Homo sapiens: one gene and its partners. The protein of the gene in region 1 interacts with the protein of each later gene in a biochemical or structural test. Each region holds a gene or a part of one and is shown on either strand. Other genes may lie near its edges.

Evidence for each region. The genes of interacting proteins can lie anywhere in the genome.
Region 2: the proteins of HCK (region 1) and GAB1 form a complex in vitro, tested with the Homo sapiens proteins (one large-scale study listed by BioGRID and IntAct).
Region 3: the proteins of HCK (region 1) and KIT form a complex in vitro, tested with the Homo sapiens proteins (one large-scale study listed by BioGRID and IntAct).
Region 4: the proteins of HCK (region 1) and MET form a complex in vitro, tested with the Homo sapiens proteins (one large-scale study listed by BioGRID and IntAct).

Annotation. Positions count from the first base shown.
Region 1 is NC_000020.11:32,086,742-32,090,241, forward strand, and holds part of HCK (tyrosine-protein kinase HCK), read left to right. Parts: coding exon 1-66; intron 67-1,826; coding exon 1,827-1,903; intron 1,904-3,500. UniProt on the Homo sapiens protein: Non-receptor tyrosine-protein kinase found in hematopoietic cells that transmits signals from cell surface receptors and plays an important role in the regulation of innate immune responses, including neutrophil, monocyte, macrophage and mast cell functions, phagocytosis, cell survival and proliferation, cell adhesion and migration.
Region 2 is NC_000004.12:143,343,376-143,346,875, forward strand, and holds part of GAB1 (GRB2-associated-binding protein 1), read left to right. Parts: intron 1-84; exon of another isoform or gene 85-160; intron 161-1,680; exon of another isoform or gene 1,681-1,760; intron 1,761-3,500. UniProt on the Homo sapiens protein: Adapter protein that plays a role in intracellular signaling cascades triggered by activated receptor-type kinases. Plays a role in FGFR1 signaling. Probably involved in signaling by the epidermal growth factor receptor (EGFR) and the insulin receptor (INSR).
Region 3 is NC_000004.12:54,734,457-54,737,956, forward strand, and holds part of KIT (mast/stem cell growth factor receptor Kit isoform 1 precursor), read left to right. Parts: intron 1-2,041; coding exon 2,042-2,153; intron 2,154-2,264; coding exon 2,265-2,364; intron 2,365-2,718; coding exon 2,719-2,824; intron 2,825-3,500. UniProt on the Homo sapiens protein: Tyrosine-protein kinase that acts as a cell-surface receptor for the cytokine KITLG/SCF and plays an essential role in the regulation of cell survival and proliferation, hematopoiesis, stem cell maintenance, gametogenesis, mast cell development, migration and function, and in melanogenesis.
Region 4 is NC_000007.14:116,794,196-116,796,536, reverse strand, and holds part of MET (hepatocyte growth factor receptor isoform b preproprotein), read right to left. Parts: intron 883-2,341; coding exon 746-882; intron 651-745; coding exon 413-650; 3' UTR 1-412. UniProt on the Homo sapiens protein: Receptor tyrosine kinase that transduces signals from the extracellular matrix into the cytoplasm by binding to hepatocyte growth factor/HGF ligand. Regulates many physiological processes including proliferation, scattering, morphogenesis and survival.

The DNA of each region.
Region 1 (3,500 bases):
TGGTCAAACTTCATGCGGTGGTCACCAAGGAGCCCATCTACATCATCACGGAGTTCATGGCCAAAGGTGCTGCGTGCTGGGGCTGGGGGTGCAGGCTGTGGCCTATACTGGTCAATTGCGGGCCCAAGGGTGGCTTGGACATGGTTCTTGCCCTTGAGATGGCCCCAATCTGGCCAGGAGCTCTTCCAACAAGTACTCATTGAGAATCTAATGTGGAACAATCCAGCCCTCCTGGTTAGTGGGGTGAAATCATGTTAAGGGGTCACCAAGGGGAAGGGAGAACAAGGGGCTACCAGGAGAAGGGAATGGGGCCAGAATACTCCTGGGCAATGGGAGAAGGGGCTTATGGTTCACAGTGAGCCTTAGAGGCCAGGGTGTGGCATGGGTGGTGGGGGTGCCACTCTCCCGCATCAGCCACCTTCCCTGTACTTGCCAAAGCCCTGGGAGAGGGAGCTGGCAAAGCAGCAGTTCTGCCCCCACCCCCGCCCTGCCACAACTCAGGATTTCTTGGGGAATTTTTTTAGGCCACTGTTTCACAACCATTTTCAACCCCTGCCATTTTTTGTTTGTTTGTTTTTTAGGGACAGGAACTTGCTCTGTTACTCAGGCTGGAGTGCAGAGGTGCAATCATAACTCCTGGGCTCAAGTGATCCTCCCACCCCAGCCCCCCGAGTGGCTGGGACCACAGGCCCATGCCACCACACTCAGCTAATTTTATTTATTTATTTACATATTTATTTTTAGAGACAGGGTTGCCCTCTGCCTACCCAGGCTGGAGTGCAGTGGCGTGATCATAGTTCACTGTAGCCTCAAACTCTCAGGCTCCAGGATCCTCCCGACTTAGTCTCCCCAGTAGCTGGCACTACAGGCATGCACTACCACACCCAGCTAATTTCTAAAAAAATTTTTTTTTTTTTTGAGACAGAGTCTCACTCTGTTTCCCAGGCTGGAGTGCAGTGGCACAATCTCGGCTCAATGCAAGCTCCACCTACCAGGTTCACGCCATTCTCCTGCCTCAGCCTCCCAAGTAGCTGGGACTACAGGTGCCTGCCACCATGCCTGGCCAATTTTTTTGTATTTTTAGTAGAGACGGTGTTTCACCGTGTTAGCCAGGATGGTCTCAATCTCCTGACCTTGTGATCCGCCCGCCTCAGCCTCCCACCATGCTGGAATTACAGGCGTGAGCAACTGCGCCCAGCTTCTAAAATTTTTTTCTAGAGACAAGGTCTCGCCATCTTGCCCCAGCTGGTCTCAAACTCCTGGGTTCAACTGATCCTCCCAAAGCTTTGGGATTATAGGCATGAACCACTGAGCCTGGCCTAACATATATATTTGTAAATTTCTTCTATAGATGGGGTCTTGCGATGTTGCCCAGGCTGGTCTCAAACTCTTGGCCTCAGGTGATCCTCTCACCTCGGTCTCCTAAAGTGTTGGAATTACAGGAGTGAGCCTCGTGCCTAGCCACTCTGCCCATTTTTTGATAAACAGAATCATCTCATGCAATCCCATTTAGTGCGATTTGAAACCTCAAGCCTTTTTCATTTTAACTATGCAATTATGCCAGTCCTGTGAAGGCATGATCCCAGCCATCCAGGCTCAGGGGCTGTCTCAGTCACAGAATCCATCTAGCAATCAAAAAGTCACTTCACTAAAACTCAATTCTCTTTCTCAAACACTAGGAATTGCAAACAAATATTCGTATTTAAATCTACTACTATGAAAAATCTTCACCACACACTAAAGTACTAGATTGGTGCAAAAGTAATTGTGGTTTTTGCCATTAAATAGTAAAAGTAGTAAATGTTCCTCCCCTCTCCCCCATATAGGAAGCTTGCTGGACTTTCTGAAAAGTGATGAGGGCAGCAAGCAGCCATTGCCAAAACTCATTGACTTCTCAGCCCAGGTGAGAGCCTAACGAGGAAACGGGGAAGGGAAACAGGAATTCGATTTTTTTACTTGCCAAATATTTACTGACCACATACTATGATGATAGCAGTAATAATAATGGGTAAAATGTATTGAGAGCTCAGTATAAAACTATGTTTTTTGCATATATTTTATTATACATGTACTCATTCATTTAATCATCCTATAAGCTTTATAGGCTGGGATTTTTGTTATCTATTTTGGTATAACAAACCATCCAAGTCCTAGTAGCTTGAAACAACAGCAATTGTTATTTCTCATGATCCTGTGGGTTGCCTGGGTTCAGCTGGGTGGTTCTTCTGCTCGTCATGGTAAAGTGAGGTGCAGATGTTGGCACTTGCCCAGGCTAGAATGTCCAAGACATGGCTCAGCCTCCAGGGTCTCTCCACATAGCCCCTCACCACCCAATCACCCAGCCTGAGCTTCTTCACGGCGCAGCAGCTGGGTTCCAAGACAGAGCTGGACCAGGGGCCAAGCCTTCATGAGCAGGCTCTCATTAAGCCTCTGCCTGCATCAGGCTTGCTAATGGCCCATTGGCCAAGTCACATAGCCATGCCCAGAATCAGTGTGGGAGGGGACTGACCAAGGACACAAATCCCAGGGACCCCCTCAATGTAACAGTCTGGCCACAGAGTAGGTAATTATCATCCCATTTTACAGAATAGGAAATTGAAGCATAGAGCAGAAGTAAAGTACAGATGTGGAAACTGAGCCCCAGTGTGGTTAAGTGGCTTGCACAAGTTACTGTGCTAATTATGGGGGATATAGCAGTGAACAAAATGAAAATGTTCCTGTCCTAATAGAGTTCACAATCCAGGTGGGAAGATGAGTATTAAATAACCAAATCTCTTAGAGACCATGACCCAAGTGGTCCTGGCTGAGTCAAAAGAGCACAGTATCTAACAAAGTAAATAATGTTCACAAATCGCAAAAACACTGCTGAAAACCTAATTTTCTTTCTCATGTTCCCCACGCCCCTTGCAGCTCCTCTCACCCCCAGCCTAAGCAGTTTTTTCACTTCTGTCCTCTCTCATGCTCTCTCTGATGTCTGGGAAAACAGAGTGTAAGGACGGGGTGGTATTAGAGTGCATAGCTAGAGCATTTAGCCTGGTCCAGGAGCAATCAGAGAATGCTTCCTGGAGGAAGTGGCCTCTAGGCCGAGCCTGAAGGATGAATAGAAGTTCAGTAGATGAAGAGAAAAGGTAAAGGTCTTTTAGACAAAAGAAACAGCCTGTGCAAAAGTAGGTGAAGGAGTTCAGCCTACTCAGCAGGAGCCCAGGGATAGTGGGAGTTGAGTGAGACCCTGCCTGGGCCTCAGCTGGGCCTGCTGGAGATGCCAAGGGCAGGGCTCATTTGAGTATGCAAATTCAGGGGCCCAGAGGACACCACAAAGTGTAACAAAAGACTCTACTTTCAGAGCCTGGAATGCCAGAGGCATATGGAAATGTGTTTTCACTCCTATGGGCCAGGTCCTCTGGGAGACAATAGACTGGTCTGTTGCTAAATTATCATCTTCAAACTAGCAGAAGCCCTGCTGGGCAGCAGTCACCGACCAGGGCAAGAGCCACTCTGCC
Region 2 (3,500 bases), on another chromosome or scaffold:
AACTGAAGGCAGACCTGCATGCAGGGCCTTTGGCTGCTGTGCTCCTGGGCTGGGTGCTGTGTCTTGAGCCCCTGTGCAATGCCTGGCTCAGAGTAGGAGCTCAACAGATGCCTGTTGACTGAATAATAAACAGGTATCGCAGGAGCTTTTGTTATGTGCCATGTGTGGAATGCAAGGAAGGAAAGGCCCACTCTCTGCCCTTAAGGAGTTTCTAATCTGTTTGTGAAGACAAGCTGTCAGTCATTTTATAGGAGCTATGATATATGATTAGTTGCCAAATGAAAGTTTAGAGTGAGAACAGGGGATGCAGGGGTACGAGATGCCAGGGAAGACTCCGCAAATGAATTTTACACTTTGCTTTTAGAAGAGCTGGTGTACTGCTGGCAGCAACAGCAAAATCTTAAGGGAGGGCTGGTTTTAAAGGAAGAACAAAGATTTGTGTTGAGTTTAGATGTCCTCATGAAAAAAACTGCTTCCCAGCACCCCAGTTTCATGTGAGGAGTTTGGCTGTCAGCTGTATCTTCTAGTTTGAGAAGTTTTTGTTTCTGCTAAGATCTAATGTTCCTCATGGGTTCCTGAGCACAAGTGAATTTTCTGCATCAAACTAGAAATGAACAAAACAACTTGTTTGGTCACCTGAACTTATTAAAATTCCAAGGGACATGAGTTGTTTAAGATTTCTTTATGTCTGTTTTAAGCTAAGTAATTCATTCTGGCAAGCAGTTAGTTTACAACAGAGAGGGAGCATGTTCTGGTGGGAGGGAGAATAAAAGAGCCTTTGATTCATTTGCTTCTGAGTTCCAGCAGCAGGACCAGGGCTGCCTTGGGCTAGCGTCTTATTTCGGACTTTGGAAGCCATCTTAGCCCAGCTGTGTGAGTGCCAGCTCGTGTTGGGGGGGAGAGAATAACACCAACGGATCACATGAAACCCCCTCTCCCTGTGGATGGAGGGGTTTCTCTCATTTCACATTCCTCGCATCAACATGGCGCCTAATTTCCACCAAGTTAGAGCTCCATCTGAATTTGCCATTTGAACTTGGATTGAAGTCACGATCTTTCTGTGACTCCTTTTATCTCAGTCTGCCAACTAATACAGAAAACTTATCAAGTCACAGTTCTCTTTATTCTCCCCTCTTGGGGTATAACACACATAAAATTAGCATTCTTTCTTTTTTATATTACCCCTGGCAAAAAGTGGCCCATTGTACTGTGGATTTCCATATTTATTAAATAACTAGGCTCTTCCGTTGCCAGTGGGATGGCTATAGGAGCCTCAATAAATTGTAGATGACAATTTAGGCCTGTAGAATTGCTGAGAAAAGTCATTTTTAGGAACTGGAATTTTTTGCTCATTCTAGGCTTCTATGTTTGAGCATCTTAAATAATAGAAGAATGCCCTAACTGGAAAAAAGAATCATTTCTCTTTTAAGCAATTCACTTATTCATAGGAGCGAAGTTCTCCCTAGTTTAAAAGGTCGCATTACTGAATAAAGTACACTATAACCTAAGAGCTTTTGACCTTCTCCCAGCCCGTTTTTAAAAAGAATTAAGACTATGCACTGTAATGCATGTTTGGTTGTTATCTCTGTTACATTAGCTCTTGAAGCATTCTGATTACAACTTGTAGCTGCCAAGCCCTGTCCTGCAGTATTATCTGGAACAAAAATTTTCCATGTGGTTGTTTTTAGCAGAGCTACTATATGCAAACTGCACGTGAAGGATATAAGTTATAAAGGAATAGAGCTTCTAGAAGGAGAAATGTGAGTTAACTTTTTTCTACCATTTAATCATTCTTTCCTCACCTCTTAGTGTGTGTTTCAATAATGTTTATCATCTTTCTAAACTGAGTTTTCTTTTATTTTTATATATTAGAAAGAATGCCAAATTTACCAAGTGCTTTTCTGATGGTGGTTTTCTTTTCTCCCAGCTTTTTACTTTGAATTCATACTTGGCCTAGGTAGTTCTCTTAAGTTATGTGTTCAAAAAACAATGTCCTAAGAGGAAAAAACAAATGGCCACATTGTCTCATGAATTAAAAACAACATACCAAGAGTCCAAACATTTCAATGTAAAAATATTAAGCCTTTCTTTTTTTAGGAAGACAAATATTAAACTTTGCTTTAACTATCCTGTTGTTTTTCCTTTCCCTTTTTTATTTATTTTCTTTTGGTTTGACTCATGTAGTTTAAATTTATTTTGAAAACAGCTTTATACATACTTCTTTAAGAATACTGCACGTAGGGGAAAGCATCAAACTTCCATTTTACATTTCAAGAGAAAAGTGAGAGGAGGCCATCCTCCTGTCAGAAGAGGGGCAAAATGTCAAATAATACCAAGGTCTTCTAACTTACTTTTACATTGCTTGGTTATTTATCATTATTGCCTAGAGATATTTAGCTATTTAAACATGAAATAAGCAGGTAAATGTAATTTAAGTTAAGCAAGTTTCACATTTGCTTTTGTGAAACGAAATCCTGGACATAAGCATTGGAAGAACTCAACTCATTTTGTTGTAGTTTTTGTTTTAAATAGAAAATAGAGACAGGGTCTCTACATTCCCCAGGCTGGTCTTGAACTCCTGGCCCCAAGTGATCTCTTGCCTCGTTGTAGTTTTTATTGTTGTATTTAACTCATTAGCCAGCCAGTTGTTGTAACATTTTATTTGCTAACTTTTTAAATGAGAGGAAGGTAAAAGCACTCTGTGCCATAGTTCCCTACTCTCTCTTTTCCTATTCATTTCTGCTTCTCTGTGATATAAGCCTAGACATCAAAAATCACAAAATATTTGTGTCCCAATCTTTACACACACATTCTTTCACGAAACTTTTCTCTAAAAAGAGAGTGTTAATTTGTGTCACTCTTACTTAGTAATCAAGAATAGAAATAATAATGTTCCAACTAGCATGTAGATGTTTTTCTCTCCTGAAATGCAGCTTTTAGTTACTGCTGTATTGGGAAATGTGGTTAGGCCACTTTCTGACTGGCAGAACTCCTCCCTGAGATGACTACCTGATGAAAGAATTACCTGCCTGTGTGCCTTCCCAGTTCCAGTCCTTAGCACATTCCCATCACTGCTGTGGCCAGAGTTGGAGTTGCCAAGACTAAGGTGCTGGTGGAGGGATGACTCCTTGATTATCGAGAGAGAAGTGCTTTAATCTTTGACTTTTGTAAGAGAGATACTAGGTAAAAGCTACCTTCAGCGTTTTGAATTCCAGTGCTGTTGTGTAGAGCTTGATGAGGAACGATTACCTCATTCAGCTAGGGAGGTATTTTTTGAACCCTCTACCCTCTGGCAAAGTTATAATTGACCCCAAAGTTATGTAGGATTATTTACTTTACATGTTCTTGACAGTTTCAGGTTTAAATGTTTGAAGTGTTGAGAAAAGGTAAAAGGAAATATTGAACTCCTAATAATGTAAAATATTTGGGAAGGTACTTTGTTCCTAGTGATGCTGTTACATAAAACCAAAGCCTTCTGAGTAATCTTTGCTGGGTATGTA
Region 3 (3,500 bases), on another chromosome or scaffold:
TATTTACGATCTAAATAATCGTGACGGTGGTTACATACTGTCTTGTTATTGGTTAGTGACCTTAGTTTGAAATGACAAAGAGGGGTTGGCTCTATCAGGCTTCCAGATTGTAGACTCCAGTTCAAGTCAGTTGAACTAACCAATCACAGATCTCGCTTTCACCAGGCTAGTGGGTAAGGAGAATTTCTGGAACAAGATAAGAAGAAGGAAACTCATATATGTTACCGCCCCACATTTTTGTCATCATCATTTGAGATCTCCTTGTTGTGTCAGGTTCTCTGAAGTTCTTTCCTTTCACATGAGTTCTTCATTGTTTTTCATGTCATGGCCCCTTTTAGAGCCTGGTAAAGCCTATGGGACCCTTATCAGAACACTGTTTTCAACGCCTATGATGAAATACATAGGAATACCAAGGAAAACAGTTAAATCGAAATAGCTATGAAGATACTAAGTAAATTTGTGATATGTCAGTACATGTGTTTACTATAGAGTGTAACAGGCTCTGTTAGGTTGGTGTAAAAGTAATTGTGGGTTTTGCTATTTTTTCTAAAAACCACTGTAATTTTAGAGTGGTGATTAATGTAAATATGATTTTGAGATACCTATAAAGACTTAATAGGATATGAAGATATTTATGATTACTGTTCATGACAAAGTCACAGGTACAGCTGATACTACTGCGTTTTATCACCTTTGTTAGTAATTTAAAGAAATGCTAAATTTCATCTAGAAATTAGCGAAAATAAGGATGTCATTTTTCCTTTCCAAGTTCACAGGCCCCTGAATTTGACACCCATAGATCTCAGGTTAGGAGCCCTTATAGGAACTTTAGCACAACATCTAGGAAGGGAAGGGATATTGGAAGTTTTTTGTTTTGTTTTTGTAAGCTGACTAAAATAACTTTAACACCAAAAAAAAAAAAGAAAAAAAAAAAAAGCTTTCCCAGTTTTCAATCCTAAATGGATTAAGAGAAGGATTGATTTAGCTTTTTATGGCAGATTAAGATTGGGAATCCAGAATGCATCTAAAAGGACTAGTTACAGAAAGTTTAGCTCAACTTTAATGGAGAGAGTTCTCCAAAGAGTCAGGATCACAAGCCACTACTGTTTATCAAGTACTTGCCTTTCTTCTAGGCAATTTTTCAGATAGCACTGAGTCAGGCGGTGCTAAGCATTTTTACCCATTTTATCTTATTTAACCCACAAGACAATTCATAAAATTAAAAGTATTCATTTTGTTTTACAGAAGAAGATACTGAGGCTTAATTACAAATATTTTAGTGACTTTCCCAGTGTATTAGAGAAAGTTTTGGGTTTTGACAGAAAACCCAAAATAAAAGAAGTCTAGGAGTAGACTTTATACCAGGATTGGTATAAAGGTTCCATGGAGTACCCGGGCAAGTCTTTCCTTTCCATGCTTAGCCATTCCTGAGTGTAACCCCCATGTCCATGGTCCAAGATGACCACCAGGTGGATAGCCAGCCATCATATCCAGAAGGCAGGGGGCCCTTGCACTAGAGAAGAGAGGGCAGAGGGCACGTGCCAGCTATATTGTAAGGAGGTTTTCCTGAAGCTGCTATACAGCACTTACAACTTAGTGGCCAAAACCGAGTCACCTAACTACAGCTAGCTAGCTGCAAAGGAGGCTGGGAAATGTAGTCCTAATTGTGAGAGGCCGTGTTTCTGTTTTTAAGGAAGGAGAGGGACATATTCAGTGGAAACTAACAAATCTCTGCATTACCTAAGGCCCATGGTGGAGCCAGGGCTAAAATGTCTGGCTGTCTCTGACGTTTGTGCTCTTAATCTCCATGCCGTACTGACATAGTGCTCACATCTTAAAATGGGGATAATGCACTTGTGAGCCATGTATTTCAGAGGTGATTGGGATCATCTGAGTTCATATAGGTAAAAGGTTTTTGTGAGATGGTACTCAAGTTATCACTCCACATTTCAGCAACAGCAGCATCTATAAGAATATCTTCTGTTCAATTTTGTTGAGCTTCTGAATTAACATTATTGACTCTGTTGTGCTTCTATTACAGGCTCGACTACCTGTGAAGTGGATGGCACCTGAAAGCATTTTCAACTGTGTATACACGTTTGAAAGTGACGTCTGGTCCTATGGGATTTTTCTTTGGGAGCTGTTCTCTTTAGGTAAAATGATCCTTGCCAAAGACAACTTCATTAGACTCAGAGCATCTTCTTGAAGTTTCATTGGTGTCCTGCTTCCTTGTGATTAACACTGCTTTGCAAACTGTGTCTCAGGAAGCAGCCCCTATCCTGGAATGCCGGTCGATTCTAAGTTCTACAAGATGATCAAGGAAGGCTTCCGGATGCTCAGCCCTGAACACGCACCTGCTGAAATGTAAGAGCCAAAAAATTTTTCCTTTAGGTCACGTTTTCCCTTTTATTTTTCTTTTTAGAGACAGAAACCCAGATGTTGAGGGTTTTCATAACACAGTTTGAAATGTCACTTGGATTCTTTATGACACACTGGTCAAATGTCATTTCTGTAGTTTATTTTCATAATCTCTTGTCACCAAAAATACAGAAAGTTTCAGTAATATTTCATACATGCAGTGTTTTATGTTATCTATATGTCAGTCCATATGTCCAGTTGCATAGCCCTGGAATTATTACTGAAGTTGCTGGATGCCCATACATTTGAAAACAAGCTGAGGGCATTGAGGAGGGATAGTAAATGGCCCTTGTCTTGCAGGTATGACATAATGAAGACTTGCTGGGATGCAGATCCCCTAAAAAGACCAACATTCAAGCAAATTGTTCAGCTAATTGAGAAGCAGATTTCAGAGAGCACCAATCATGTGAGTATACCCTGGCCAGGCATAGAATCCCCCTTCTCCCAGTTCCAGGTGTGTCCTCCTCCTCAGGCTTTCAGGGTGAGGACTAACCTCCCAACCCCTTCTCTCCTAATCTTAGGTTGCAAATTGGGCTTCAGGTAGGGGAAGTAAAGCAATGGAAACTAGTTCTTTCTGCCCAGCCCTCCTGTTCTGAGCCAAAGAAGGATGTGAGATTGAGGGGGAAGGGTGGAGAGTTTTGTACTCACTGGAAGTAGAAGTTTCCATAAGGATTTGCCATGTTTCCTCCCTCATCTCAAATGCTGGTCACGGGGTCAGTATTTTCTCCCTCTCACATGTCAGGGCCATGCATCCTTTGGAGGGTTGGGGTGATGTGAACTAGAATAAAAGCATAGAAAAGACAGCTTGTTACTGCAGTGAAATAAGCCTTCTGATCAAACAAGCATAGCCAGAAAATGGCAGATAGCTGTCATGCCCACAAGCCATATAGAATGAAGAGCTGTTTGAAGTTGGGAGATCCCTCCCAGTGATTTGGGAAGTGTGGGGGAATGAAAACTCAAATCCATTATTTCCTCTCTTTTTAAGCAAGAATTAGTGATACTTTGACTCAGATTTTTTTAAGCTGCTTTCTTTCCTGGGCTGTGTGCTTGGAGCTATCTTTTCTTTCCTAATAGCACACCAC
Region 4 (2,341 bases), on another chromosome or scaffold:
TAAATGAGTGGCCTGTTCTGGGGCTGCCGCTCCTGTCCTGAGCATTACTATCTCTTCTGAGTTTTCTGTGATCAAGAAGCCCTCAATATTTCCTGCTTCAATTTCCCATATGAAATCAAGTGGTACCTGATTTTTAAAAAATTCAACCCAGAATTCAAGTTTTGGACTCCAATATGACAGGAGTGTTGTCACGGCTGCAGGCCATTGGTCCGTGGCCTGTGGGACCAAGCCTCTGGTTCTGATGCTCTGTCAGATAAGAAATTCCTTAGAATCCAGTAATTTAAATAACAATACAAGTCCTATAATAGTGCAATTTTGGCAAGAGCAAAGAATATCGATGGCCTTTTAAAGGTCAGGCAGTGAAAAAACCATTGGACAAAGTGTGGACTGTTGCTTTGACATAGTACTAGCACTATGATGTCTCCCAGAAGGAGGCTGGTCGTGTGTCCACCTCATCATCAGCGTTATCTTCTGATGACAACAGAGAAGGATACGGAGCGACACATTTTACGTTCACATAAGTAGCGTTCACATGGACATAGTGCTCCCCAATGAAAGTAGAGAAGATCGCTGATATCCGGGACACCAGTTCAGAAAAGGATGGGCGCATTTCGGCTTTAGGGTGCCAGCATTTTAGCATTACTTCATATCTGTTCCAAAAAGAAAGACATGCTGTAAGAGACCCTTTGAAGGCAGGCATTTCTGTAAAAGTAAAGAACGTAAGAGGTACAGAAAGACTACTTACAAGGGGTCTGGGCAGTATTCGGGTTGTAGGAGTCTTCTCCCTTGCAACAAGTAAACAGTTATATCAAAGGTGTTTACGTCAGGATAAGGTGGGGCTCCTCTTGTCATCAGCTCCCAGAGGAGCACGCCAAAGGACCACTAGTAAAACAAGAAACAGGACAGATGAGGTGAGAGATGTGACCATACATATATGAAAGGAAATCAGTAGGTCTTGGTAACTAAACTTGGCTTTACATACTCAATACGGTTTCTGTTTTGGGCAACAATTTTCTTAAAGGCAATTATTAAGCTATACATTTCATGACTTGTTTAAACAAGTAAGGTTTAGATTATAAGTAAATGTAAAGTTTTCTAAAAGAATATCTGAAGTCTACATGATGATGAAGATTCCATCTGTAGTTGGTAGAATATCTCTTCCAAAATTCTCTCCCGCTGTGTCAAAGCACTAACATGTTTCTATCCTTTTCTTTTCCAATAGCTTCACTACAATTTTACATTACTTGTAAAAGAAGAAGAAAGCCTCCCAAAATTTAAATTTGTGTGGTTTCAAACTGAACATAAATACTCTTTAAGAAATGTAACCACATTGAAAGGTTACTATTAAATGGGAAGGTCTAAATCAACATAAGTAAAAATACATATTAAAAATCAGAAATAAAAAAAACTGCAAGGCAACAAGTTTCTCTATTGAAAATTAATTTCAATAAAACTGTCACATGAAGATGTGAAAGTACTAGATTCATATAAAATAGCCGTATCAGTACTATATAGGAAGATCACAGGGACACGGAGAGGTTAAGTGACTTGCTAAAATTCCCCAATACATCTGAGTCCACACTGGGATAAACATTTAAGAGTTCCTGACCCTTAGGTCTTGTTTGGTCTACTGAACTTCAATAAACATGCAATTTCTTGATTTAAAACACTGTGCTCAGGATAGACCAGGTCATACATATTATCTCCCCCTGGACATGTGCCCATGCAAGAATGACACGAGGAGAGTCAGCATGGGCAGAGGCCGCCCCTGTGGACAGGACCCAGGGGGGCAGTTCTGGCCCAGCAACACTTCCAGGCCACTCTAAGAGTAGGAAGCATAAGGAGGAAGAAATGAAGGAAGCTTGGAGCAGAAGGAAAATCCACACCAGACAGCTGGAGTAGGAAGACATAAAACTGAGAGGCAAGTGTAGCTTGCAGTACCCAGCAAGAAGGAGAATAAAGCCTGCCTTTGAACGCTGCGACTGAAAGAAAGAAATGAGGTAGATGCTGTAATTGCTGATACAAATTACCATTAATGACTTCTTTGCCCAAGTGCAAGAACCCTTGATGGCTGCTGACTGCCTTGATCCCAACAGAAAACTCAAACCCCTTGCCAGGAGGGAGCTACAGAACTTTGCTGTCTAATTCAGCTTTGCAAAGTAGAAGTTTTCAAAGTCTGAAAATCTTAACAATCAACAATCACTTCTGACAACATCATCGTGTTAACTTTCAAGTCCCAGAATATGCATTAACATTTAAAATCAATTTAACAAGTATCAATTGACCCTTGATCACATACGAGTAGGTTACTGTTCAAGTTACTAGATAGGTCCCAGGGCTG